7 linked regions of the Homo sapiens genome follow. The protein of the gene in region 1 interacts with the protein of each later gene in a pairwise test. Each region holds a gene or a part of one and is shown in the gene's direction. Other genes may lie near its edges. The genes, in order: NFYC, STOX1, SMAP1, APOL4, CSN2, ZNF34 and PAX4.

Region 1 (4,013 bases):
ACAGAACTAAAGCCAAAAAATGGGAGAGGCTGGGGAGAAGCAAGAAAGTGGTAGCTGAAGGCAATGAAAATCTTTGTAACAACAGGTTGTAATTATGACAACCTAATACTTAGTAGGTGCTCAGTAAATGTTTGTTGAATGAAGCTGAATGAATAATATGTAAATAAAATGTAAAGGTAAATGAAATCTCAGCTAATATGAATGGCAATCCTGCTGGCCACAGAGCAGTTAACCTTCTTATCTATGTGGAATATTTTCCATTTGTCTCAGGCTCACTTGTTTATTCTGCAACATTTCTGGAATACTAACTTTGTATGGGCTCCTGCCCTCAGGCATCTTATAGGCTGTTGGAAGGAAAAGGACCAAAATAAGGAACAATAGTAAAAAATAGTCATGAAGCCTGTCATACCTGTTCCCTTTCTTGTTCCTCATAGCCTCATGGGTAGGCCTGCAGGGGTTGTTTTTGGCCATGGTGAGGACATTTGAGAGGACAGTCCTTGTCTTGCAGGCTGGCTGTGATGATTCCAGGAAATGGTACACAGAGGACACTGCTGGCCAAATGTTCCATAGGAACACATGTGCATGCACACCGCAGTCTTCTTTCTAGTTTACCGAGCTGCTCCCAGCAGTTGTCATTATATATGCAGTTCTACATGTCAGTACATTTATCTAAAATCCATTCACAGTCCACACATAAGATTTTAAGTACTTGTGATAAATGTTGTCTTTGTTCCACTCCCGGTCCCTCCCCTTTTCTCCTCCCCTCCTTTGGCCCAGAGGGCTGCACAGTGCCTCTCTCGGAAAAAGTACTTCATAGGTTTGCCATGAGGACTGCTGGGACCAAGGCCACTTGCTCGCCAGGGTGTTTCATATTCCAGTCAGATGATCTGGGTGATACGGGTTTGGTTTGGAGCCCACCTTCCAAGAATGAAAGAGGCCACTTACCACTTTGTCTGACACTTTGCAGTCCGCCTTCACTGGCTGAAAGACTGACTCTTAGGACTTCTACCCCAAACCATAGCACCTAGGGTCCATGTGTTCTGTTTGAGCCTCAGAGTTTGAGATGAGTGGGTGGTTGAGGGAGTAGGCATTCATTAGAGAGATGGGTGTGGGAACTATCTATTATGTGCTCCAGGATTCTCGATGTCACTTTGTGCTGCCAACTCTTGACGTAGCCATCAGTGCTAGATTAGGAGGGGTGCTTGCTTGCTTACTACCCATTGAGCACCTGCTGGGCACTTTATATGCATTGTCTCATTTGATCTTTATGACCCTCTTTTGGGTGGTGGGCTGGTGGATCAGACCCTGCAGCTGACATACCAACTCTACCATCTTGATTCTTACAGATTACACAGACAGAGGTCCAGCAAGGACAGCAGCAGTTCAGCCAGTTCACAGATGGACAGGTAGGGTACCCAACCTGGGCTGGGCAGAGGGTGAGGATTTGCGGGGCAGGGTAGCAGGTAGTATCTGGGTTTGGATGGTTAGGGCAACTGTCCTGTCCTCTACTAACAGTGAGTGGACAGAAATTGTTAAAACAAGTACGGTATTTAAATCAGGGCACCTATCCTTTAGTTTTATAGACTTAGTGGGAACTAAAATAATCTTAGACATGTAGCCCAAATTGCCATTTTACAGATGAGTAAACTGAACCCTGGAGATGGGAAGTGCCTTGTCCATGCTCCCCTAGATGTTCATTGCAGAGCCAGGACTAGAGAGCAGGTTTCCTGTTTCCCTCTCTAGAACTGTATTTTTTTCCCCTCTAAGCCATGATGCTGTTTTAATAGCATGGACTGTTGAGACGCAGAGAACACGTGACCTCTTGAGCTCTCTGGGTGCCTGAAATTCAGTCATTTTCAGTCCATGCGAGGAGAGAATCTTCCCTTTTCCCTCTGCTTTCCCCTCACAGTACAGTCCCAGAGACCACTGAGGACATGATAGGATGACATGCCCAAACTTGTGCCCTCTGCTGCTCAAAAGGGAGAAGAGCTGGCATCAGGACCCACCTCTGGCTTCTGCCAGCACCACATGCTAGGCTTACATGCCAGGGCTCCCATGAGGGCTTGGCTTTTGGCTTCTTTGGGGAGCGCCTGGGAAACCAAGTAGTCAATTAGCCCTGACCTTCCTAAGTGGCTGTGTGAGTATCTTCTCCACCCCTGGAGCGTCTTGGCTATAGTTAAGTGTTTAATACCAGGCCACCTCCTTAGCAGGGTCCATGGAGAAAATTCAAATTCAGTTTAGTTTCAACCTGAGCCAGATATTCTGAGAAAAGAAGGAGAGGAGGGGGTAATCCTACTGCCCCTGCCAGTGTAGATTACCAAGAGTTGGGGAAATGCTGACTTCCAAGCTGCTGGTACAGTGGTTCGAATTGCTTGTGTTTGCCACAGAGGAACAGCGTGCAGCAAGCTCGAGTCTCTGAGCTAACGGGAGAGGCAGAGCCCAGAGAAGTGAAAGCCACAGGAAATTCAACTCCCTGCACCTCTTCCCTGCCCACCACACACCCCCCCTCACACCGGGCTGGTGCCTCCTGTGTCTGCTGCTCCCAACCCCAGCAGAGCTCCACTTCCCCTCCTCCTTCTGACGCCTTGCAGTGGGTGGTGGTTGAGGTATCTGGGACCCCCAACCAGCTCGAGACCCATAGGGAGCTGCATGCCCCTCTCCCAGGGATGACCTCACTCTCTCCTCTCCACCCCTCGCAGCAGCTCTACCAGATCCAGCAAGTCACCATGCCTGCGGGCCAGGACCTCGCCCAGCCCATGTTCATCCAGTCAGCCAACCAGCCCTCCGACGGGCAGGCCCCCCAGGTGACCGGCGACTGAGGGCCTGAGCTGGCAAGGCCAAGGACACCCAACACAATTTTTGCCATACAGCCCCAGGCAATGGGCACAGCCTTCCTCCCCAGAGGACCCGGCCGACCTCAGCGCCTCCTGCAGGCTAGGACACTGGTGCACTACACCCCATGCCTGGGGGCCGAGATTCTCCAGCAGAAAGATGCAATATTTTTTGTTTCCTTTTTTTCCATTTTTTTCTCTAAGGAATCAATATTTCAATATGTTGAGTGTGTGTCCAATGCTATGAAATTAAAATATTAAATAACATATTTATGGCATTTTCTTGAAGAGTGTGGTTGAAGAAATATTTCTCCTTTTGTTTTTCTTTTTTTTTTGTTTGTTACTGCCACTTCTTTTTAGGAGCAAATCTCCCCAGGGGTGTACGGTATTTCTTGACTCTGGGAACAGCTGCTACCCCCAAGACTTGCCACGTTGTTCTGCCCTCAGATGGAATTAGGTGAATGTGTGTAGCTGCTTTTTCACTCGTGGTCCTCTCCCCATCCCTTGCTCTGACCCCAGAGCTCTGTGTATTTGCATCCAGAGGCCATGGAAACATTCTTTGCATTTAAGAGACAGATTTATTCCCTGTGGAGAGTGGGTGGATTCATTGCCACACTCTTTTCTCCCAGGGACCCAGGAAACTAGGACTTTGTGTGTTTGCTGCCCACCTCCCTTTTATTTTTTAAATGCATTAAAAACTGTGCTAGTCTCCTTTGCATGGACTTCAAGCTGCATGAAATGCAATAAATCTCATTTTAGATAATTTAGAGTCTGGGTTTCTGTGTCTGGGGGCATTCATGGGGCCACTTTGCTTGGAAAGGTTCATTTGCCCTCAGTTTGTGTGTCTGGGAGAGAGGGCCACCCTTGTGAGAAGGAGATGTTCAAAGCTAAGGGAACTTAATGCTGTGTACCTAATTCAAACTGAGGTCCTTAGCCGATCTTTTTTTTTCTGGCTCTGTTGCCCAGGCTGGAGTGCAGTGGTGTGATCACTGCTCACTGCAGCATCAATCTCCTGGGCTCAAGCAATCCTCCCACCCCAGCCTCCTGAATTGCTAGGACTACAGTCAGGTACCACCATGCCCAGCTAATTTTTTTTATTTTTTATTTGTAGAGACACGGTTTCACTGTATTGCCCTGGCTGGTCTTGAACTCCTGGGCTCAAGTGATCCTCCCACGTCAGCC
Region 2 (3,500 bases), on another chromosome or scaffold:
TGCCCACCTTGGCCTCCCTGGTCTCAAGTGATCCACCCACCTTGGCTGGGATTACAGGCGTGAGCCACAAGCTTGTTCTTTTTAATGGCTGTTTAGCATTCTGTTATGTGGACTATATATATATGTAACTATTATTTTCCTTTTTTTTTTTAAGAGACAAGGTCTCACACTGTTGCCCAGGATAGAGTACAGTGGTTCAGTCAGGGCTCACTATAGCCTTGGCCTCCTGGTCTCAAGCAAATCAGCCTCCTGTGTAGCTGGGACCACAGGCTTGCACCACCACACCCAGCTGCTGCTGCTTATTATTATTTTGTTAAGAATGAGGTCTCACTATGTTGTCCAGGCTGGTCTCAAACTCCTGGGCTCAAACAGTTCTCCCATCTTGGTCTCTCAAAGTGCTAGGGTTGTAGGCATGAGCCACTGTGCCCAGCCTATTTTCCTTTCTTTGACATTTAGATCATTCCCAATTTTTTGCTATTAACAAATCAATCTGCAGTGAGTTATTTTTACATAAAAATGTTTGTGGGCATTTCTGAGTTTTTTTCTTAGGATATATTCCTAGAAATCTACATTTTAAAAACGTATCATTACTTCTTTATTGGGGGTGCAAGACCTTTTCTTTTTTTTTTTTTTTTTTTGAGATGGAGTCTCGCTCTGTCACCCAGGCTGCAGTGCAGTAGCGCAATCTCAGCTCACTGCAACCTCTGCCTCCCGGGTTCAATTGATTCTCCTGCCTCAGCCTCCTGAGTAGCTGGGATTACAGGCACACGCCACCACGCCCAGCTAATTTTTGTATTTTTAGTAGAGGTGAGGTTTTCACCATGTTGGCCAGGCTGGTCTCAAACTCCTGACCTCAAGTGATCTACCTGCCTTAGCCTCCCAAAGTGCTGGGATTACAGGTGTGAGCCCCCATGCCCAGCTATTAAGTATTTAAGATAATCAAAACATGTCTTCAAATGTGAACAATGGTGGTGTAAACCAAAAAGCCATGGGTTCCTTTTCTTTCTCTGTGGCAAAAACAAAACAAAAACAGATGAGAGACATTACTCCTTGATAGGTGACTAGGAATTTTGATTTGCAAAATTTTGAGAAATTTAATTTCTTAAGGATTGCTTATTTTTAAGCAATATGCTTTCCTGAAAGGCTAGCTATAATTGACAGGCATTTAGAGGAAAGGGAAAGGAAAGTAACATTTGAACATCAACTGTGTGCCATGATGGTTATAAGGATTAGGGGGATAGAGATGAACAAGACATTGTTTCTACTTACAGGAAGTATACAATTTAGTTGGGGAGACAAACAATAAACATAGGCAAGTTGAACTTAAGAACAAAGCATGAGACTTTAACAGTCAAAGAGTGATGGAATTGAGTGATGGGCTGTTTAGAGAAAGACTTATTAGACGAAATATGTTTGAGATATATTTTAATGTAATGGACAGTTGATGGAGAGTAGCAAAGTGGGAAAAGGGAATGTCGAAAAGCAAAAATAGGCTGGACGCAGTGGCTCACGCCTGTAATCCTAGCACTTTGGGAGGCTGGAGCGGGTGGATCACGAGGTCAGCAGTTCAAGACCAGCCTGACCAACATGGTGAAACCCCGTCTGTACTAAAAATACAAAAATTAGCCAGGCGTGGTGGCACGCGCCTGTAATCCCAGCTACTCAGGAGGCTGAGGCAGGAGAATCACTTGAACCCGGAAGGCGGAGGTTGCAGTGGGCCAAGACTGCACCATTGCACTCCAGCCTGGGCAACAGAGTGAGACTCTGTTTCAAAAAAAAAAAAAGCAAAAATACTTTTTTTGTGTGTGTGACAGAGTCTCACTCTGTTGCTGAGGCTGGAGTGTAGTGGGTGCGATCTTGGCTCACTGCAACCTCTGCCTCATAGGTTCAAGAGATTCTCATGCCTCAGTCTCATGAGTAGCTGAGATTACAGGTGTGCACCAGCATGCCTGGCTAATTTTTGTATTTTTAGTAGAGACAGGGTTTCACCATGTTGTCCAGGCTAGTCTCAAACTCCTGGCCTCAAGTGATCTGCCTGTCTTGGCCTCCTGAAGTGCTGGGATTACAGAGCCTACCAAACAGTATTGTGAGTTAGCTGAAGCAAGGCATATGTGTTAGATAATGGGCTAATATAGCTTGTTCCTTCTAGAAAAGAACATTGTAATATTAAAAATATAATAATTTGCTTTTCTCTTCCATATGATTTCTCATAAAAGTAATAAATTTCACAGGAAGATATTGGCCACTTCAGATATATGGAAGTTTTTCGGGGAACTTACTGTTTCTGACTAGAACATACTTGATACTAGATCTGAGAAGAGATGTTTTTCAGAAAATATAAACTTCTGTGAAGGCAGCTGTCAAATAATTGAGATGCTATTGTGAAGCCTTTAAAATGTAAAGAGCACTTCGGATTTTTAAAGGTTAACTTATTTGATAAGTGTACCTTTGTATTAGTAAATGTACTACTTCAAAGTAGCAAATGGAAGTATAATGCCTTGGTTAGAAATTCAAGTTCCCTTCGAAGCCAATAATTCTGTTATTTTTAATATCTTTAGGACACAGAGTCTGGGATCTAATAATTCAGTCATTTTGGATGGACTAAAAAGAAGACAGAATTTTCTGCAAAATGTCGAAGGCACAAAGAGCAGTCAACCACTCACATCTAATTCCTTACTACCGCTAACTCCAGTCATAAACGTTTAATTTTCTTTTGGAAACCTACTTTTTTCTTTATAAAAAGGTAGAGCATTATTACAGAATCTTTCAATCATGTAAGAATTGAGTATATAAGAATTGTCTAAAGGCAAGCATATCTATACTATTAACCACATTACACATTTTGTTCTAATTACTGGCTTTTTTTCCTCTTTTGGTGTCTTAAGGCTTTTTGAAGCTTATTTTACTGTGAGTTTATTGGGAGTATATAGATTATTTTCGATTAAAAAGTGGAATTATTGGTCCCCTTCCAATTGTAATTATCTTGAATTTTTATACATTAGTTTCTCAAATATATAGAATGCCAATTTACTTCCTGTAGTGAATTTTTTTTTAACCTACACTAATATTGAGTTCTAAGTTAAGTGGATCTCACCAGATTTCAACACAAAATCAGAAAACAGTGTGTGTTGAAGCAGTGTCTGTTGCAAGAAAACAGTGTCTGCTGCAAGATATCTATGCAACCCTAGGTCTTTATCATTACCAAGAAAGAGTTTACATAAATGTGTTGGCTACTCTGCAACAAGAATTCCTTTAATCATTGCTGCCCAGGGGCTTCTCTTTGACCAGCTTGGACATGAACAAATGGTTCCCAATGTGACTGACAATGTCGAAAATTCCTGTGGCAAGAGGCATCTGGCTGTACTACTGTTCCTCTGGTTCCTCCCTACATTTCAGGCCTTCTTTGAGATGGAGTCTTGCTCTGTTGCCCAGGCTGGAGTGCAGTCGCACAATCTCGGCTCACTGCAACCTCTGCCTCCCAGGTTCATGCCATTCTCCTG
Region 3 (4,013 bases), on another chromosome or scaffold:
GCTCAAAGGACCTTTGAACTCCTGGGCTCAAGCTATCCTTCTGCCTCAGCCTCCCAAGTAGTTAGACCTGCAGGCACTCACCACTACGTGTGGTGTGTAGTTTTCAATTTTTATTAGAGACCACTGTGGTTTCACTATGTTACCCAGGCTGGTCTCAAAACTCCTGGCCTCAAGTTATCCTCTCACCTTGGCTTCCCAAGTGCAGGGATTATAGGTGTGAGCCACTGTTTCTGGCCCACTGCATATCTGTTTAACCTTTCTTAGTTTGAGACTTACTTGCTAAAAATAATTAAACCCTCCAGCTATTGCTCTGTAACTATTTACCTTAATGTGTAAGCTTCAAAACAGATAGATAACGTTGTAAATTGTTGTGTTAGAAATGATGAGACAGAGTGGAAAGTAACTGGGGGAGGCAGCTCTATCTAGAGTTGTCACAGATGTCCCAGATGTATGTTTGCCAGTTTATAGATGTAATTTCTCAAATTTAAAAGCAGGATATTTGAGGATAAGTTGCATGTGCATAATCTTCCTCCTGTGTAATTAAGGAATTTGGGGGGGCATTATTTTTAATTTTACTATATTGTACTTACTAGCTTTAATGTTGTTGTGTAGAGCAGTGTCACCTTTAGATAAACAGCATGTACTTAAAACAGAAGGCTATGTTTAAAAAAAGCTTTATTTTTAATTTTTAATTTTTTGATACAGAGTCTCTCTCTGTCACCCAGGCTGGAGTACAGTGGCGGGATCTCGACTCACTGCAATCTCTGCCTCTGAGGTTCAAGTGATTCTCTTGCCTCAGCCTCCTGAGGAGCTGGTATTACAGGCACCTGCCACCATGCCTGGCTAATTTTTGTATTTTTAGTAGAGACCGGATTTCACCAGGTTGGCCAGGCTGTTCTCAAACTCCTGACCTCAAGTGATCCGCCTGCCTTGGCCTCCCAAAGTGCTGGGATTACAGGCATGAGCCACTGTGTCCAGCTACTTGATTTTTATTGATATCTCTTACTATATACATACATTTTTCATAATCAACTAATTTATAGAAGTCTGTTAGTAATATGATTCTGAATATTTGGCATATTTTCCAGATATTGCTTTTATTTTTCCATTTTTACTTTATTAATTTTACAAGCAATATGTGAAAAAATCTGAAGCAATTTTTAAAATTATTATGAAAGAATATATTCAAAGGTATGAAGACTTGTACAGCTAAGACTTGTATTCTTGTATTCATATGTGAGTTTTTTGGCAGTGTTTTTCAGAACTTTTTGACCATGAACTGAAGAACTAACATTTTGTAGCACACCTCAGTTCATATATGCGTATTATATGTTACTGAAACAAAAGTTTATATTCTTGCCATACAGCTTAGCAATTGAGTGCTACTATTGCTCTCCAAGCCCACAGTGAACTTTTCCCTGATCACATCCTCTTTCCTTACCACCAGTTACCTGCCTCAGTTTCACGAAATTTGTAGATACATTTAATTAATATGCAGTATGCTATTATTTTACATATTTTTCAATTTATGTAAATGGTTTCACACTGTATATATTCATCTGTGACCTTTTTTAATGTCAGTGTTATATTTGAGATTTAGCCATGTTGATGCAACGCTTTTTGAAGCAGTCCTTGTTTCCCCTTCTTGCCAACAATTAGTAGTTAAAAATTTTTTTTTCCAGAATGTTGGGTGCAAAATGGAAGTAACTGTAGAGTTAAAGAGCACTTTCACTAATTACCAGTGAGACTGTGCATATTTTCATGCTTATTGGCCATAAATTTCTTCTGTGAATTATTCATTCATATCTTTTTGCTTATTTCGCATTGGGCTGGTTGTCTTTTTCTTATTAATTTCTACATTTAATTTTTGAAATGTCTTTGATTTTTTATTTGTTGTTAATCTTGTGCATATCTTATGCATTTAATAAAGAAATTATTTTTACAGTAGGGTATTATTACTATTCCTGATTCAAATATGCTAAGTGAAGAAGCTGTTTATATAAATTAGTTTTAAAATCTTAGAGTGGAGGGGAAGTTTCTAGGAAAGCAAAATGAGTAAAATCAATAAGGTTCTTAAAGATTGCCAAGACACATGTCTTCTTAGCAGACTGCCGCCAGTACCATTTGAAAATTTGAGCATGTGACTTCTGTAAGCTTCCATTATAATTATATAAAACCGAGAATGCTTCTAATATGCTGTTATGTTTATTTTTGTTTTTAACATTTGCTTTTTTTTGTGGTTTCTTCTTCTAAATTAGGTCCTCGATGGGCTTCCTGGAATATTGGTGTGTTTATTTGCATCAGATGTGCTGGAATTCATAGAAATCTTGGGGTTCATATATCCAGGGTCAAATCAGTCAACCTAGACCAATGGACAGCAGAACAGATACAGGTAAACATGACGTTACCAAGAAATTATTTAAAATATTTAAAATGATTTAAAAATATTTAACCCTTCTTGCATCTAAGGATTAACATTGAAAAGTAGTTTTGTATGTTGAAATGGCATATGCCACGTATAAAATTGGAATATTTGAATTTTCAGTTCACAGATGTTTATTTCATTTTGTGTCTATAGTAAAGTCAGTTTTTAATCTATACTTTCTAAAATGTTGATTTTAAAGTGTTTTTAAAGTATCATTTCTCTTGTTGATAAAATTTGCCAGTATAATTCCATAGTTTGTTTTATTTTTTTTTCAGTGGAGGGAGCCTGGGTAAAGATAAAATAAAAAACCACCTGTAGCCTAAAAATGGACTTGAGTAATTTCCTTTCTGTTCTGAGGTGTTCTTAGTTTTCAGACAAGGCCCAGAAGTTGTAAGACAACCCAGTGAACAAATGTTCTTATGACCAACCTAAACTTACTTATGAGTGGTTTAACTCTGCTAGAGGTAGATTTGTAGTTTTAAAAGTTTGCCATTTTCCCAATGTGACAGTCTTAAATTCTCAAAATCTTACTTTTTATCTTTAAGGTTGGCCACTATTGTAAAAATGAGTACTTCTACTGGTCTTATTATGTAATTCACAGTGAAGTTACACCACTTATTTATGCCCTTTTGAAATTACTTTTAAGTCACTATGAAGTGCTAAATACATAAATATATGTGGTTGAGACTCAGTGATACATCTCAGAATCTTAACCCAATAGTTTACATGAATGGGGTGAAGTAAAGGTAGAAAAACAGAATGGAGATCTTCAGGCTATAAAGTCAAGCATAATTTATTTGGTTCCATCTTAAATTAGTTTTTGAGCTTTTCGCTGGCTAGAGCATAAAGGGAAATGCAATCTTTTATGTACTTTCAAGATCCTTGAGGAGAAAACATACTAGTTATATCAAAGAAGCAGAGCTTTTTAAACACTTCCTGTAAGGCAGTGTTCTTAGTATCTCTGTAGAATATGGTAACAGATGTCATGATGTTGTAAGTCTTTTTTTGTTTGTTTGAGACAGGGTCTTGCTATGTTGCCCAGGCTGGTCTCAAACTCTTGGACTCAAGCGATTCTCCCATGTCAGCCTTCCAAGTAGCTGTGACTATAGGCATGCACCACCATGCCCAGCTGATGTTGTAACTCTTTTTCAAGAAACGTGTGAGGTGTAGCTTGACAGTATAACTTGGTGTTTGTAATGGGTTATGGAGGTACAAAGCATTCACGACCGAAGTATCCTGCTTTTTTAATGGCTTATTTCAAACTAAGGATAAAACACGAGATCCTTCAACAGTTCAGTTATTCAGAAATATTTTTCTCAATTAGGTTGTTGAGAGGAAATGAATAGCAAATTATTTGAGATGGGCAGCTGTATAGCTTAGAGTAGAATTTTGTAATCAGAGGGCTGCAGTTCACTGGTTTTCTTTGGCATAGGTTACAAGTACATGGCAATATATTGGATTTTTTTTTTTTTACAATGTAAGGATTTTAAAAACAGTTATTAAATAATAATATTTGAAATTGTATTTGAACATTATTTGATTGCATTTGCCAACTTCTTGATAGGAATTGCTCTGTCTGGCCCCCCTC
Region 4 (4,533 bases), on another chromosome or scaffold:
CAACCTGCCGATCCGCCTAGGAGCAAAGAGAGAGCCCCGTTGCACTGGGGGCTGCTGGCCAGATCCCGCAATAGGAAACATGGCTGAGACAGGGGAGTGAGAAGGTCGCATTGCAGAATGGTGCCTGTGGCATGACGCCAGCTTTGTAATCATGAGATTCAAAAGCCACCTGTGGAATTGTGAGTGTAACTACAGGAGTGAGAGCTTAGATCTCTGTGTTTGTAGAAGCAGAATCAAACCTGGACACTGTTGGATTACTAAAATCACCCGTTTTTCTTCAATAGCAGAGTCACAAGGGCAGATGTTGGCTTCCCGTCTGCTCTCCAAGAGCTGTGCGACTCTGGGCAAGTCACCTCCCCTCCCAGCCTAAGATTTTCCCCTCTCAGAAACCTGATAGAGCTGCCAAAAGTCCATGAAATCAGGGGGGTAATTTCTGTGAAATCTGAGTCGTGGTCTTATTTTTCTTTTTCTTTTTTTTTTTTTCTTTTTTCTGAGATGGAGTCTCGCTCTGTTGCCCAGGCTGGAGTGCAGTGGCGCAATCTCTGCTCACTGCAAGCTCCGCCTCCCGGGTTCACACCATTCTCCTGCCTCAGCCTCCCGAGTAGCTGGGACTACAGGCGCCCGCCACTACACTCGGCTAATTTTTGTATTTTTAGTAGAGATGGGGTTTCACCATGTTAGCCAGGATGGTCTCCATCTCCTGACCTTGTGATCTGCCTGCCTCGGCCTCCCAAAGTGCTGGGATTACAGGCGTGAGCCACCGCTCCCGGCCTGATTTTTCTTCACCAAAAAGAGATGCCCATCAAGATAGAAAGCACTATAGCTGAAGCCTGTAATCCCAGTGCTGTGGGAGGCAGAGGCGGGAAGATCACTTGAGGCCAGGAGTTCAAGACAGCCTGAGAAACACAGGAGATGCTGTCTCTATGAAATCAAAAATTAACAAATTAGCCCAGCATGGTAGCGTGCACCTGTAGTCCCAGCTACTCAGAAGGTTGAAGGAGGAAGATCACTTGAGCCCAGCAGATCTAGGCAGCAATGAGCTAGGATGGCGTCAAAGCCCTGCAGCCTGGGTGACACAGCAAAACGGTTTATTAAAAATGAAATGAAAATGGTGATTTCTCAGGAGGAGCACACTGTCTCAACCCCTCTTTTCCTGCCCAAGGAGGAGGCCCCGCAGCGACATGGAGGGAGCTGCTTTGCTGAAAATCTTTGTCGTCTGCATCTGGTGAGCTTGGCTCAGAGCCCTGAGGTGGGAGGGAGGGCTCCCTGTCTGGGCTGCACAATTGGGCAGGGCTTGGGCTGGGCCAGGAGCCATGTGGGTTTTTCTAGGAACCAAAATCACTTCCCGGAATTGACCAACTGGTAGACTCGCCTAGAGGGGACGCACTGTGTCCTAGTTGAGGCTAACAGTCAGTATCCAGCCTCAACATTCAGCAGAGGCCCCAGATCAGCGTCTGAGCCAGGCCAACAATGACCAAGGAGGATGGGATCCTGGGTGCAGCTCATCACAAGCGTCGGGTGAGTCCGAGGCCCCAGCTCTCTGCCCTCCTGCTCCTCTGCTCTCTCCTGGTCCTCCCAGTTCTACTGGCTCATGGTGTTGAGATGGTTGCCTTGGCCTAGGGGGTCACACAGTGAACAAAGCAGGAAGAAGGCGAAGGGATGCCCCTCTCCTGTCACCCCTGTCCCTTACAGCAAGAAGCGCCCAGACGCCCCTCTGCATACTCCCCTGGTGAATGCTGCCCAGGACTGGGTCCCCCTTTTACCCTTGTTGCATGGGGGCCCCAGAAGACAGACATCTGTGTGTCTGAACCCTGAGACAAAGGCAGGAAAGGGAAAGAGGGAGGCGAGTGGCTTTTGAGGAGGGGGCTTTAGTATGAGAGCTGGAGGATGGAACCCCATCAGGGGGCCCGGGAACCACTGAGCTGTTAAAATAAAGTCTGCAAACAAAGACCAGCTGCTGGAAGTGGGTGTGCCAGGGAGTGCGCAGAGACACACGGTGAGAAAAGAACAATGGTAATGCTTGGAGCCGCCCCTAACTGGGATGGGCCTGAAATGGTATTGTTATTATTTATAGTATCATTATTAGTCATTTTCATCTTATTTGTACCCTCCCTCTATCTCTCCTCTCCACCTTTTCCTAACATTCTATCACCAGTTTTATGTCTTCCATTAGCAACTTTGTAGCTGTAAACAATTTACTTACAACTTTCTTATACCCTCAGTTGTACCCAGTATTTCTTAACTTCCATCTTTAAAAAATGACAATATTAATCCTCCTTCTCCTTTGTTCAGTGCTTCACATCTCAACTGCTACCTTCGTGCCTTAAAGTTTGTACTAATTGGTATTGATAACAAGATATTTAGTTCTCAAATTTACATGTTGTGTATATATTTTTTGTCCTGATAAAGAGACTACTGAGAGCCAGTAAGACTGAAAGAATGGGCATCTTCATATACTGCTAGTTTGAGTGTGAATTGGTACAATTTGCATGTAGTGTGGCTCTAGGTATAAAACATTTTGAGATGTTGATACCCTCTGACCTAGTCATTCTACTCCTACAAATATCTTAAGGAAATAAAATCAAATGTGGGCAGTTTTACGTGAAGGAGGGTGTTCTTTGTAGCATAATTTACATGAAGAATTAGAAACACCCTAAGGTCCATCAGCTAGGGGAGGACAGCAGAGGGAACAGGGCAGCGCCAGGAGGGCTCGGCAGCCACAGCAGGGGCTAGGCCGGCATCTGGCAGGATCCAGGTCTTTGTGGGACAAAGGATCTTAGAGAAGCAAGGGGGACACAGGCTGTCCACTGCAGCACCAGTGAATTCACCAAGACGAAAAGTTGAGCACGGAGTGTGAGACATGGATTTGCAATGAGGAGTCATTTACCATGAGCGTGTATACATGACTCAATATTGTATATTTAAGGGAGTAGAGCACAGTCATTGAAGACATGAGGTTGAAGCAGAAGTCCTGGCTCTAGCAATAGAAAACACTGGCAAGTTCCCTAACTTTTGTGGATTCCTCTGTGTTCAAATGGGAAAGTGGTACCCATCTCCCGGGCTGTGTGTGATCATTGAATGAGACACATGTCAGAAGCCCTGCACATCACAGGCCCGGCGCGACCGCTCACGCCTGTAATCCCAGCACTTTGGGAGGCCGAGACGGGCTGATCATGAGGTCAGGAGATCGAGACCATCCTGGCTAACACGGTGAAACCCCTTCTCTACTGAAAATACAAAAAATTAGCCGAATGTGGCGACGGGCACCTGTAGTCCCAGCTACTCGAGAGGCTGAGGCAAGAGAATGGCGTGAACCTGGGAGGCGGCGCTTGCAGTGAGCCGAGATCGCGCCACTGCACTCCACCTGGACGACAGAGCGAGACTCCGTCTCAAAAAATATAAATAAATAAAAATAAAAATAAAAAAAGAAGCCCTGCACATCACAGACACTCAATACAGACTGGCTATCATCAATTAGTTGTCACACATGTTTCCGGTCATTGTTAGAACGTTCCTTCCCATCTCTATTTCTGCGTATAGACTGTGTAGTTTCTGTAATGATCAGATGGCTGCCCCTCCTCTGATTATCTTCTCCTCATTCTCCAACAGGACAAGCGGACTTTTCCTTGGTGTGAGAGTGAGGGAAGAGGGAGCTGGAATGAGTTGAGTGTCTGTAAATAGCAGATGATGGGGACTTGGTGATAGAGAAAGAATCTGGGTTAGGTTGGTCTTGGCATTTGCTGCCACCTCAGAGGGATCTGCAGAGGCCCAGCTGTTCAAGCCTCCCTTTGCCCATAGGTGGCTCACATTCAATCCCACAATTTGTTTTCTCTTCCTCAAGGGTGCAGCAAAACCATCCAGGCTGGACAGTGGCTGGACAGTTCCAAGGTAAGCCTTTCAGAGACCTGGCTGCTGGTAGGCTCGCCTCCTCTTCCCTGGCTGGTTCCTACCCACAGCTAGAATGGAGGGTGGTGTCTTCAAGGCTGAGTGAGCCCCAACGGAACCCAGACGGAGGTGGCTGATGAGGCTGCCCCAAGCCCCAAGAGAGGCCACGTGGAGTCCCCTGACCCAGGGTTCTGGGGGGCATCTGCATCCTGACCTCTCCTCAGCGGGTCATGGCCCAGGTGCCCACTTCCTCCCTACCCTGACACCTAGCAAATGACTTAAGTGGGGCAGGACAGCCTTGGGGAAATGGAAACAGCAGGGTTGGCTTTTGAGGGTTGGCCAGGAGTAGCGGAGGGGTGGGAGAGGAGGTTGACCAGCAGCCCTGACCTCTCACCTCCCTCTCTGCTCCTGGCTGACCCTGGGGTGTTTCCAGCAGAGGCCGGTCCCCTCCCTCCAGCTCTTGCCCTGCACCAGCCCCTCTGCTCTGAGTGGCCCTGTGGGTAGAGTGACCCAGCTTCCCACTGAACTGGACCCCATTCTGGTCTTGGCCATGTCCCCTCTGTGTGACCTGGAGCTCCTTACTCCTCCTCACCTGCACCACTAGGATATTTGCCCATGTTGTCATGAGGATCAAACATTACATGGGTA
Region 5 (4,579 bases), on another chromosome or scaffold:
ACCATTTCCCTACTTGAGATCATCATAATGTCTGTCTTAGGCTACTGCAATAACATAACATAACAACTTCCTTTACTAGGTTACCTGATTTGTTGTCATAAAGTCATGAAATCCAAGAAATTTTACAATCCATTTTTCTTTCAAATCTCTAATATATTTGCTTCCACTGAATTATGTCACAGTGCATGCCTGACATTCACAGTCATCCATGATCTGATTCTATCAAACCTCTGCAATTGTAACTTGCAATGTATGCCCTCTGAATATCCTCAAACTGGTATGTTGCTCTTTCAGTTCCTGTGTTTTCTTCAGCCAAAATATCTATCCCCATTTAATCATCTCGCAAAATTCTACTCATTCTCTAAGGCTCAACTAAAAGAGCAGTTCCTTAATGGCAAGCTCCCCTGCCACACACAGCACAGAGGCCCTACTTTTCCAATTCAGGCATAATTAAATTGTACATATTTCAACCAAATGCTACATTGATAGATAAATTTTATAAAAAATTATCAGAAGGTTAAAACATGGGCTCTGAGACTCACATGTGATCAAACAGAATCACATGTAGTCAGACAGATCTGAGTCCAACTGGTATCTTTGCCATTAACAATATGGTTTTGAGCAAGTTACTTAACCTTTTGGCATCTCTGTTTTCTCAACCTAAATATGAAGAGGAGAGCTACCTCATGATGTTCTTGTGCAGATTATACAAGATAATATCTTTGCTTAGTGCTTGGCAAAGGGTTAGAACTAAGCAAAAAAACCCATCATTAATATTATCATAATTATGCTTGACCTGAAAAGAGATAATCAATATTAAAAGGTAAATAAAACTCCGTGATACTTTGCAAAATTTTTATTACAGATTTACTGAAGATTTTGCCTATACCAGCCACCCAGATTCCCTCTTCAAGTTATTCCATTACAGAGGAAAGTTTATTTATCTTGTGTACAAAATATTTGTTTTAACTAAATTATTTTTTTTTCCAAATCAAGTGGCCCTGGGAGAAACAGTTTGCCTCACATAACTAAGCTACCATCATGGACTTGTTATCTTGTCAGTTTCTTCATTTCAGCATAAAGCACTAACAACTGCTTAGGTTCACATGAAACTGTGGCCTTTGTGAAGCCCTGTGTATATCTAGCGTTCACATACAATTTTCCCACAACTGAAATCTCAAGGCCCCACTAGGCCCTAAAGAGACCTAATTATGTCCATAATAACTTGGGGACAGGGCCAGAGTATCACTGTCCTCCAGTCATTGTCTTTTGTTATTGAATAATTGCATTTCCTGGACAGGTTTCTTTTATCAACTTGTGAATTGTTCCCTTGTTATAATGATGCCCAGAATTTCTGGGGATATGTAATAGGCAGAAATCATTTTCTAATCATGTGGACTTCTTGGAATTAAAGCTCGCTATTGATCTTATTTCAAATCACAAAATTAGTGTGTCATTAAATATAGTATATAAACAGTCACAGAAGCTGATGGACCATCATCCATCCAGCACTACCTTCACTTCTCTTCAATCTTGGAAAAACGGTAAGAATTTTAGATACAAATTTGTTGTATCTTCTCCTAACCATGTATTTCAAAGTAGCTTGAGCTATAGAAGGAACGTAGTTACTTAAAATATAGTGTTTGAAATAAAAGTATTTAAGGTAGTACTGAGATTATTTTTAACACTTAGGCTAAAAAAGATAGAAGTGCCCAGAAGAATTTGGTAATGACATATAGCCTTCATGAGTTTAAGAAAATATAATAGCTAATTTTATGCATATATATATATATATATATATATATATATATATATAGTATGAGGCTAGTTCATAGTTAATATTAAAAGGAGATTCATTTTTTTAATTAATCTTCCAATTTGATTTAGCATATCACAGTTATAAAAAGAATTATACTTCAATTATAGTATGGGTAGATAAATAATTACTGGAAAAGCTTTGTCCAGCAGGTAGTTTACAGCAGTAGCATACTGAGTTGAGAAATGGAGGGAATGGTATGGGGGCATTTACTACTTTAAATGTTTATAAACAATGTTTTTAGAAGAGTTTACTCATCAAACTTGTCTAGAGCCTCAAACTTCCCAGTTTATTATCTAGTTTGTAATATTTCAAAACAATATTAAAATGAGACAGAAATACAGAATTAAGTAAAAAAGAAACAATGTGGTTTACTTTGTAAGAAAATTCTTAATGGGGTAGAAAAGACTTGGAAACCATAAACAAAGATAATAGATGATATAAAAGAAAAAGTAGCTTAGAGTGTACCAGTTGATAATGAAGCTCTGGCTTAAAAATTAGTATATAAAAGTATACCAGTATGTAGTATATTTATAGTATAGAAATGAGTATAAAAACTAGTATAATTAGTATTAGTATATATTAGTATATTAGTATATAAATTAGCATTGTAATTATACATTCGTATATAAAATTATTATATATATTAGTAGATTAGTAATAAAACTAGTAAAGTTTATATTACTTATAAAATATAGAAAATGCTGTGGGATCTTCCCTATGTGTAATTATATATAATAGAGTGTTATATTCTGTTTCTGAACCCTGACATAAAAATTTGGGAACTTATAGTGGTCTTAGGCAAAGTAAAATTAATAAAAACTTAATTAACATTCATAAAAAATCTAGAAAAAATATTTGTTTTCTGTAATAGAATTATGTTCAACCTTCAAATATTGAAAAGAACATCTCTCAAATAAATTAAAGACTTTTTTGATGAAGTATTTTAGTTCAAAAATTTAGTTCAAAAATTGAGTTTCAATATCTGAGAATGAAGATTTGAGTGGTGAGTAATATTGTGGCACAAACATTATTTTGAAATAAATTACAAAAAAATGTAAGAACACATAACAAGGAGATGATTTAGTATATTTTGGTCAAAAATATTAACATATATTTCACAAGAAGAGGTAGTCCCAAGCTTAGCAGTGGGCAAGAGGCTCTGACCCCTTGGCGGATCATCAAGAGAATCGTGTGTACATTTCAATAAAGAGAAGAGAAGAAGCCTAGTGTACAATATCTAAAGTCATGTGGCATAAAGGAGAACAGACATTATTAGCTATGTGGGGAAGATGAATATAAACGGAGAAGAAACAAACTCAATAGTCCAATAAAGTCTCTGGATAGTGACACAAATAAGGAAAGTGTTAAAATGAAAACCTCAGTCTTATTGGAAATGAGGAGAAATAAACTAAAATAGTCATGGTAACCGTTTAGTGAAAAGAAAAAAGGTAAAAATAAAATGTGACTTTTTTGTACACATTTTCTTGATCAGTCTCTTCCAGTAGAACTGAGGCTCCATGAGGGAGTAATATCAGGACTGTAATATTTTGTTCATTGCTGCGGTCCTGGTCCCTAGACAGTGTCTGGCAAGAACAGATTCTAAAGAAATATTTTTAAGTTAATGAATAAATCTTTTTTTAAATTTTATTTGTCTTTTGAAATTATTATTATTATACTTTAAGTTTTAGGGTACATGTGCACAAAGTGCAGGTTTGTTACATATGTATACATGTGCCATGTTGGTGTGCTGCACCCATTAACACGTCATTTAACATTAGGTATATCTCCTAATGCTATCCCTCCCCACTCCCCCCACCCCACAACAGCCCCGGTGTGTGATGTTCCCCTTCCTGTGTCCGTGTGTTCCCATTGTTCAATTCCCACCTATGAGTGAGAACATGTGGTGTTTGGTTTTTTTGTCCTTGCGATAGTTTGCTGAGAATGATGGTTTCCAGCTTCATCCATGTCCCTACAAAGGACATGAACTCATCATTTTTTATGGCTGCATAGTATTCCATGGTGTATATGTGCCACATTTTCTTAATCCAGTCTATCATTGTTGGACATTTGGGTTGGTTCCAAGTCTTTGCTATTGTGAATAGTGCCGCAATAAACATACATGTGTATGTGTCTTTATAGCAGCATGATTTATAATCCTTTGGGTATATACCCAGTAATGGGATGGCTAGGTCAAATGGTATTCCTAGCTCTAGATCCCTGAGGAATCGCCACACTGACTTCCACAATGGTTGAACTAGTTTACAGTCCCACCAACAGTGTAAAAGTGTTCCTATTTCTCCACATCCTCTCCAGCACCTGTTGTTTCCTGACTTTTTAATGATCGCCATTCTAACTGGTGTGAGATGGTATCTCATTGTGGTTTTGATTTGCATTTCTCTGATGGCCAGTGATGATGAGCATTTTTTCATGTGATTTTTGGCTGTATAAATGTCTTCTTTTGAGAAGTGTTTGTTCATATCCTTTGCCCACTTTTTGATGGGGTTGTTTGTTTTTTTCTTGTAAATTTGTTGGAGTTCATTGTAGATTCTGGATATTAGCCCTTTGTCAGATGAGTAGATTGCAAAAATTTTCTCTCATTCTGCAGGTTGCCTGTTCACTCTGATGGTAGTTTCTTTTGCTGTGCAGAAGTTCTTTAGTTTAATTAGATCCCATTTGTCAATTTTGGCTTTTGTTGCCATTGCTTTTGGTCTTTTACACATGAAGTCCTTGCCCATGCCTATGTCCTGAATGGTATTGCCT
Region 6 (3,310 bases), on another chromosome or scaffold:
CCTCTGGGAAAGAGCACCTGAGAGTCAACAGCCCAGGTGCGTGAGGGGATCTGCTCCCCAACTCAAGTCACCGAACGAGCCTTTATTGGGGTCCAGGGTGTCTGATTAATGAATCAGGAGTTTGTGGGCCAGATTCATCGGGGCTAGCACAGGAGGCCTGACAGTGGCCTTTGCTGAAGCCCAGGTGACCCCTCTCAGTCTGGGCACCTTGGTGGGGAGATTATTGAGCAGAATCTCTCCAGGGCAGCATTTCTGTGGAAAATAGGAATGGACATTCCAGGCAAGGTCCCGTGTAGAGGGGAGTGAGTAGGTGCAGAACAGGGGTGCTGTTAGGGTCTGCGGAACCCCACAGAACCCTGCGCTCCAGAGCTGATGCCAGATAATGAGGGCCTAATGATGGAGCTATCATTTAATTCCCCTCTCTTCTAAATTAATACACTGCGGAAAAGTGAGAGACTACACATCACCCTGAATCTCACTACCCAGACATAGTTGTGTTGTAGTATATTTCTGCTATTCCTTTTCTAGCACTGGCCTTTCCACTGTTATGTACTGACACTGCTTTTTTTTTTTTTTTTTTTTGAGACAGGGTCGCCCTCTATCACCCAGGCTGGAGTGCAGTGGTATGATCATGGCTCACTGCAGCCTTGACCTTCTGCACTTAAGCGATCCTCCCATCTCAGCCTCCCGAGTAGCTGGGACCACAGGCATGTCATGTGTCACTCACACTAATTTTTTGATTTTTTTACAGAGACGAGGTTTCACTGTGTTGCCCAGGCTTGTCTCGAACTCCTAGGCTCAAGCGATCCTCTCGCCTTGGCCTTCCAAAGTTCTGGAGTTAAAGTGTGAGCCACTGCCACTGCACCTGGCTCAGATGCTGTTGCTTTTTTATTTTTTGAGACAGAGTCTCGCTCTGTCACCCAGGCTGGAGTGCAGTGGCGCAATCTTAGTTCACTGCAACCTCCACCTCCTGGTTTCAAGCGATTCTGCCTCAGCCTCCTGAGTAGCTGGGACTACAGGTGCCTGCCGCCATGCCTGGCTAATTTTTGTATTTTTAGTAGAGACAGGGTTTCACTGTGTTGACCAGGCTGGTCTCAAACCCCTGGGCTCAAGCGATCCTCCCACCTTGGCCTCCCAAAGTACTGGGATTATAGGTGTGAGCCATTCTTTTTTTTTTTTTTTGAGACAGAGTCTTGCTCTGTTGCCCAGGCTGGAGGGCAGTGGTGTGATCTCGGCTCACTGCAACCTCTGCCTCCCAGGTTCAAGCAATTCTTTTGCCTCAGCCTCCCCAGTAGCTGGGACTACAGGTGCACGCCACCATGCCTGGCTAATTTTTGTATTTTTAATAGAGACGGGGTTACACCGTATTGGCCAGGCTGGTCTCAAGCTCCTGACCTTGTGATCCGCCTGCCTTGGCCTCCCAAAGTGCTGGGATTACAGCCACTGTGCCTGGCTGACACTGCTTCTTAACAGAAATGATAGTGTGTTCTGCTGTGCAGACACGGAATGTGTTTCCATTTCTGTGCGCATGAGTCTCAGTCATGTCTTCAGTGCAAGTGCAGGCCAAAAGATTGGATAGCTCTGATGGTCACCTTTTTGCATGTGTCTGATGGTGTCTGAGGAAGGAACTGCTGGCTCAAAGGACTTCTTATTTTGTAAATTTGCTTATTTGAATGTAAATATCTATAGAAATAGGACAAACCCTAAGTTTATAACTCAGTGAATTTTTATGAAAAATCATCCTTCAGATTAAAATACAGACTGTTTCCGCTCCCCAGGAGCTCCCTGGCTCTCCTCTGCCATTTCCCACTGCTCCCCACAGGGGTCTTCTTTCTGACTCCTGTCACAAGAGGCTGCTTCCTCCTTTGGATTTTTCTGTGTAGACTCACACAGGGCATCTTTTGCTGAACACTGTGAGAGCTGCTTGTGTTTCATGGAGTAGCAGTGTGGTCTGTTTGGTTGCCATTGTTCTATTGTATGAACACACCACAACTTATGTTCCCTTCTACTTGTGGAGGACATTCAGTTGTCCAGGTTTGGGGTTGTACAGGAACTGCTGTGGACACTCTTGTGCATGTCTCTCTCTGGCGCCCGGAATACATTTCTGGCGCGTGTGTACCTGGGAGCAGAGTCACTGAGTCAGCATTTTCATAGATCAGCTTTAGATAAGGTTGCCAAGCCGTCCTCCAAAGCAGCAGCTCCAGCATAGGCTCCTGTAGTAGTGTGTGAGCACCGTCTGCTGCACATCTTGGCAGATATTGGTGTTCAGCACCTGTTCATGTGCAGTGCAGAGCCAGGCAAGGGGTGGAAGGATAGACCCCTTAGGACTAGGAAGAGAGCAGTAATGAAAGTGGCAGTCATGAGGTGCTTGCACCTGGAACTCACTGTGCTGGGCACTGGGCTGAGTGCTTCATGGTCAGTCTGTTGTATTAATCTGTTTTGTTCTCATGAGAGTGCCATGTGGTCACAGATGGAGAAACCAAGGCTCAGAAAGGTAGGTGAGTTGTTGCCTCAGGTGACTCAGCTGGCAAGTAGGGGCCAGGACTAATCAATCCTGACTGTGGCTGCTGGTATCAGTCTCTGAGCGGCCATGTGGCAGGACCCCACTTGGGTACTTGTCACTCTCCATTCTTGGGGAGTGGCCACCCAGGAGAGGTTTGTTGTGTGAGTGTCAAATCAAGGAAGGAAGGAGTGAATGTTTGAAGGGCTGTATGACTGTGGCCCCAGGTGAGCTGCATAAGCCTCTGAGCTCCAGGCTCTTATCTTTGCAAGGCTGTTGGGACTTTGGAGATGATCAAATTGGTTCCCCACAGGTGGCCAGCAGCATCTCATGCCTACCTTCCAGAGTCAGAGCAGGTGACCCTTAGATGTTCTGTTTTTTGTTTCAGCTCTTGGGACCAGAACTGAGTACAAGGAGTTGACTTCACAGGAGACATTTGGTGAGGAAGATCCCCAGGGATCTGAGCCAGTAGAAGCCTGTGACCACATCAGTAAGTCAGAGGGGAGCCTGGAAAAGCTAGTGGAGCAGAGAGGCCCCAGGGCAGTCACACTGACCAACGGGGAGAGCAGCAGGGAGTCTGGGGGAAACCTCAGGTTGCTGTCAAGACCTGTTCCTGATCAGAGACCTCACAAATGTGATATATGTGAGCAAAGTTTTGAACAGAGATCATATCTCAACAACCATAAGCGTGTACACAGGTCAAAAAAAACAAATACAGTTCGTAACTCTGGGGAAATCTTCAGTGCAAACTTAGTTGTTAAAGAAGATCAGAAAATTCCTACTGGGAAAAAATTGCATTATTGCAGTTAC
Region 7 (4,608 bases), on another chromosome or scaffold:
GGCCCCCCTGCCAGGGCCCTTTACCACTTTTCCCTCCCCCATCACCTCTGGGTCGAAAGCCTCTGTTTGTTCAGACCCAAGAGCGCGTCATAAAGGCGGAGGGAGAGGGTAGTTTATGGGGTAAATCGCTGCCACCACCATCTGCTAGGGCTTGTCCCTGCTCCCCCTGATACCCCTATCTCCACCCTCATGCAGCTGTCTATAGGAATAGCTGGTCAGGACATAAGCCTTGAGCCCCTAGACGCAGGGGCAGATCTAGCGGGGAGGGATGAGGCAGGAATGGGGGACTAGGAGCAGGGCTACCACAGGCCTTACTGGGGACCTCCTCCCACCCAAGCATGGCTAAGTAGAGTGACCAGCAGTCCCCAGCTGCCCCGGGGATGGAATGGGCTGTAAGGACACTTGGGCAAATGCTATCCTGCCCGAGGTCCTGAAATCACCCTCTGCAGTCTCCCCTGTACCCCAAGACCAGTCTGAGGATGCTGGAGGAGGGTGGAAGAGGAAGAGAGTATGTATCAGGGTAAAGTGGAAAACTCACTTATGTGATATTTGGCCTTTGAGAGCAAGAGTTCCCAACCCTAGGATCAAGCTGAATGCACAACAACCACTTTCACCCCCAAAACCTCAAAACATTTACCAATGACATACGTCTTCCATTCTCTGATTTCTGGGACTAGTCTTATTGCCCTACACCCTGCTTACTTCCAGTCTAACTTTTGCAATGGTTTCACAGACTCTGAGGTGTGGAATGGACCCAAAGACCATCTGCCCAAGACCCTGATGACTGGCAACAAAATTTACATGCACTAGAGGCTGTGTTTCACTTTCAGCATCCCACTCCACAGGCACCACCTGCCCAGCTACTGATACCTCTGACCTCGCCAATGACCCAGATAACCTGTGGTGTCTTTTGTGGAAACAGCAGTGCCATTACTAACTTAGAGTCTAAAAGCATCAAATCCCTAACAGAATGGAGCCTGCTAACATCTAAAGATGGAAGAAGGAAAATCCTGCTGCAAGCCTCCTTATAAACACCCACATGCATCTCTGACTATCCTGAGGCTCATTTCCACCACCACTACCATTGTCAGTGTTCTGAAGTCCAGGATCCTTCCATTTCCAGGCAAGAATTCACCCTTGGTGTCACCTCAGTCAAGGAGTCAATTGGAGAATTGGTTAGGACACTCTCTGGGGACAGCTGGTGCTAGGTGACACACACTCTTCACACTCTTCTCCATTCACTCTCATTATCTCAGAGTGCTAGGAGCCAACTCAGTCAGTATTTAGGCAACAGTCTGTATACTCATTTATCTTTTATAGCAACACACACGACTCAGGAGTTGACCCCAAAGCCCATGTATGTGCATTCTGGCTGGGAAGCTGTGTTGGTGGTTCGGGAAGGCATCTTTTTGCTTCTGTGTATTCAAAGCCTTAAGAACACAACCTGAAGTTCCCCATCTTCCATGCTCAGCATGCCCTTCAGGAGTACTGGTGCTTGTGTGGGTACACTTTTGCCTGTCTGAGAATGGCTCTGTCCCTGCTTCCGGGTGGTAGGTGGACACAAAGTGGGCTCTGAGGATTCCCCATGGAAGGACACAGTGGGTCATTGGCTGTGGTTTGCCCTGCCTCAGGGCTGGTGTCAGTCAGCCCATGCACACCTCCCTCCTCCTCTCTCCTCTGCTCATGGCCTGTGACATCACTGGCTACTCCCAGAAGGCTGCCCTCTGCTCTTGAGCACGGGCTCTCTATAGCTCTGGACCCCCTGGCAGGACTGAAGCAGGAGCAGAGTGGAGGCTGTTACCAAGACCAGATCATCACCACCCCTGGAGCCTGCAGGGGTCTCAGAAGCTGAGACCTCCCACTGAAGCTCCCACCTCATTTCCTCCACACAGGTAGCTCACCTGCAGGCTCATTGTCTGCCCTGCCTCTCATGCTGTCTCCATGCCTCTGTGTGGCCAAACCCAACTTCTCTCCCACTCTGCCTTTGCAGCTACAACCCTCCTGCCCCTTCCACCCCCTTTCCTGTTTTTCCATCTTGCAAGCACCAGTTATTTTTTCAGACATGTTAATATGAATGTTGGGAATGTGTGTTGTGGCTATTGGGAATGGGGTTTCTGTTTGTGAGTTGGGGCATAATGATTTAGGTTTGGAGATTATTTAGGTTTGGATACTGAACCTGCATCCCTACTGCTCTTTTGAATTCTGGTCACTTAGGAGAACTGAGTCCCATCAAGGATTTAGGGTTTGGCTGATATTTTGAGCTCCTTCACCCTGTCTTGGCACAGCCCTTTACAGTCCCTGCTTGATTCTCCTCTCTCCATTGTTTTTGTGGCAATTACACAAACATGAAACAGGGGTGGGAGCAGAGAAAGAGAGCCCAGGATTAGGAGCCAGAAATTGTAGCTTCTGATGAGGAACTGGCTTCTAAACCTTGAATTTTACTCTCTGGACAGCCCCTGACTTGTGGCAATGCCAATCTGTGCCTCAGTTTTCTCTTTGGAAAACCTCTGCCTTCTTTCCCGACTTTTTGGAAAGATGAGAATTTGAAGGGGTCTGTGCCTCTACCTACCTAGAAACAAGTGAGTAAAAGCCAATTTAGCGACTGAACTTAATAAGTAGACTCTGGATTCCAAACTCTTTGTAATTCTTTGTTTCACTGGTGCTAGTCTCTTTTCTCCAGTTGCTCTGTAATGTGTTGGAGAGCAAAGACTTTACCCTTTTCTGTTTACTGCCTTCATCCTGAACAACCAGCAATGTGCTCATGCTTAATATCTTATTCAGCATACAACTGCAGATGAATTAACTAAGCCCAGATGGCACGCTTATTATAAGAAAGTTCTGTGCATAAGCTGTTCCTTGGGGTGATCTCCAGCACTACCAGGGTTCCAGGCATGAAAGGAGGCATCTTCAACTCCCATTGATTACTAATGAAAGTAGAAGAGGTATGGTGGCCTGTGGGACCTGTGTCCCTTGCTGCTCAGAGACTCGCTTGGGCTCATGACGGTTTCTATGTTGCTCAGCGGACAGTCTTCTCCTGCTTCTCATTCCCTTCAATATGCCTTTGATAAATGTTAGTTGAATGAATGAGTGTCTGATACCAGAAACATCGTCTCTGAAATTGAAGCTTCACTGTGAGATCTAGAACTCTTCAGAGAATGAACAGAATGAACAATCTCAGCAGGTTAGAGATGCTAAGAGATGCGTCTCCTAGGAGAAGCCGGCTCTTCAGGCGTGTTCATCTCTATGCCCAGTGTGTAGGACCAGAGCCTCAATGCCTGGTGGGTTAGAGCTGAGTCCCAGTTTCCCTAGAGCTTCCTGGAGAGTATAAAAAAACAGGAGCAAGCCTTTCTGAAGTGCAGCATTTGGGTGGCAGTTTGGAGAGCCCAACCGAGGACTGCCTAATAGTGAAGGTGGACCCCTGAACTTGAGGACCCCAGAATCTCTGGCTCGGGTGTGTCTTCCAGGGCTGAGAAGGCTTAGGAGCAGCTGGAGACAACAGCTGTCCATTTGGAAAGGGGAAAGCTTGAGCATTTGAAAGCATTATCCCTTTCTACCTCCCCAAACTTTTCTAATGAATGTGTAGGAAAGGAGAACCCTCTCAATCCTCCCAGCCCCTTATCAGGACTTCAAGAAAGATCCAGTCCTCAGCCAACCTGCAGTGTTTTAGTTTTTATCACACAAAGGTTTAAATAAAAGGAATTAGAATTTTCTGATTTTAGCCAACCCACTGGCAAATTTTAGGAACCTGACCCTCTATCACAAAACACTACCTCCCAGGACCATTTCAAGCAAAAGACCTCACCCAAATAACCCCCCATTATTGCAGAGCCAGCCCCCAAGCTGGAAAAGGAGCTCCTAGAAGGAACTTCCCTTCCCAGCCTTCCCAGCTGGAGTCTCATCCTTCTGAGGAGGGTCAGCCTGGAGCATGCATCAGGACGGTGAGGAGCCTGGGGGAAGTGGGAAGACAGGGAGGACAACAGAGACAGGGGAAGACCTCAGGGCTTTGCTTCCATCAACTGTTTCATCTGCTATTGGCCAATGTTCTGGGGAAGCTTTTTCCAGTCCCTCCCTTCCTGCCCTGTCCTGCTTCCCTTAGATCAGGAGAGTTGGCGGGTATGGGCAAGGAACAAAGACTCACCCGTGAGCCAGCTCTCAAAGAAAGCAGCTTGCGTTGACAGCCTGGGGGCAGCAAGGATGCAGTCTCCCAGGAGAGGATGCACTCGGTGGTGGGAAGCCAGGCTGGAGGGGCCTGAGTGACCCTCTCCACAGGCGGGCAGGGCAGTGGGAGAGGTGGTGTGTGGATACCTCTGTCTCACGCCCAGGGATCAGCAGCATGAACCAGCTTGGGGGGCTCTTTGTGAATGGCCGGCCCCTGCCTCTGGATACCCGGCAGCAGATTGTGCGGCTAGCAGTCAGTGGAATGCGGCCCTGTGACATCTCACGGATCCTTAAGGTAATGGGCCAGCACCTTTACCCAGTGATGGGGACAGGAAGCAGGGAGAAAGGGCTCCTCTGAAGGCAAGAGCCTGGGGCTGTTGCAGGCTCTGAGGGCTTCTGGGACTTGGGTCACTTCCTGGGAGATCCTCTCGGAGGTTGAAAAGGGGAGCC

Evidence for each region.
Region 2: the proteins of NFYC (region 1) and STOX1 interact in binary tests that used the Homo sapiens proteins (3 or more experiments, as listed by UniProt).
Region 3: the proteins of NFYC (region 1) and SMAP1 interact in binary tests that used the Homo sapiens proteins (3 or more experiments, as listed by UniProt).
Region 4: the proteins of NFYC (region 1) and APOL4 interact in a two-hybrid assay, tested with the Homo sapiens proteins (one large-scale study listed by BioGRID).
Region 5: the proteins of NFYC (region 1) and CSN2 interact in a two-hybrid assay, tested with the Homo sapiens proteins (one large-scale study listed by BioGRID and IntAct).
Region 6: the proteins of NFYC (region 1) and ZNF34 interact in a two-hybrid assay, tested with the Homo sapiens proteins (one large-scale study listed by BioGRID).
Region 7: the proteins of NFYC (region 1) and PAX4 interact in a two-hybrid assay, tested with the Homo sapiens proteins (one large-scale study listed by BioGRID).

What each region holds. Positions count from the first base shown.
Region 1 is NC_000001.11:40,768,010-40,772,022, forward strand, and holds the end of NFYC (nuclear transcription factor Y subunit gamma), read left to right. Parts: intron 1-1,346; coding exon 1,347-1,406; intron 1,407-2,387; coding exon of another isoform or gene 2,388-2,699; coding exon 2,700-2,819; 3' UTR 2,820-3,594; downstream 3,595-4,013. UniProt on the Homo sapiens protein: Component of the sequence-specific heterotrimeric transcription factor (NF-Y) which specifically recognizes a 5'-CCAAT-3' box motif found in the promoters of its target genes.
Region 2 is NC_000010.11:68,890,031-68,893,530, forward strand, and holds the end of STOX1 (storkhead-box protein 1), read left to right. Parts: intron 1-2,558; coding exon 2,559-2,706; 3' UTR 2,707-3,030; downstream 3,031-3,500.
Region 3 is NC_000006.12:70,730,120-70,734,132, forward strand, and holds part of SMAP1 (stromal membrane-associated protein 1), read left to right. Parts: intron 1-2,258; coding exon 2,259-2,392; intron 2,393-4,013. UniProt on the Homo sapiens protein: GTPase activating protein that acts on ARF6. Plays a role in clathrin-dependent endocytosis. May play a role in erythropoiesis.
Region 4 is NC_000022.11:36,198,685-36,203,217, reverse strand, and holds the start of APOL4 (apolipoprotein L4), read left to right. Parts: upstream 1-1,408; 5' UTR 1,409-1,483; coding exon 1,484-1,518; intron 1,519-3,609; coding exon of another isoform or gene 3,610-3,662; intron 3,663-3,841; coding exon 3,842-3,888; intron 3,889-4,533. UniProt on the Homo sapiens protein: May play a role in lipid exchange and transport throughout the body. May participate in reverse cholesterol transport from peripheral cells to the liver.
Region 5 is NC_000004.12:69,962,646-69,967,224, reverse strand, and holds the start of CSN2 (beta-casein isoform 1 precursor), read left to right. Parts: upstream 1-1,496; 5' UTR 1,497-1,544; intron 1,545-4,579. UniProt on the Homo sapiens protein: Important role in determination of the surface properties of the casein micelles.
Region 6 is NC_000008.11:144,774,184-144,777,493, reverse strand, and holds part of ZNF34 (zinc finger protein 34), read left to right. Parts: coding exon 1-36; intron 37-2,888; coding exon 2,889-3,310. UniProt on the Homo sapiens protein: May be involved in transcriptional regulation.
Region 7 is NC_000007.14:127,615,246-127,619,853, reverse strand, and holds the start of PAX4 (paired box protein Pax-4), read left to right. Parts: upstream 1-1,711; 5' UTR 1,712-1,892; intron 1,893-2,453; 5' UTR 2,454-2,579; intron 2,580-3,826; 5' UTR 3,827-3,925; coding exon 3,926-3,938; intron 3,939-4,322; coding exon 4,323-4,453; intron 4,454-4,608.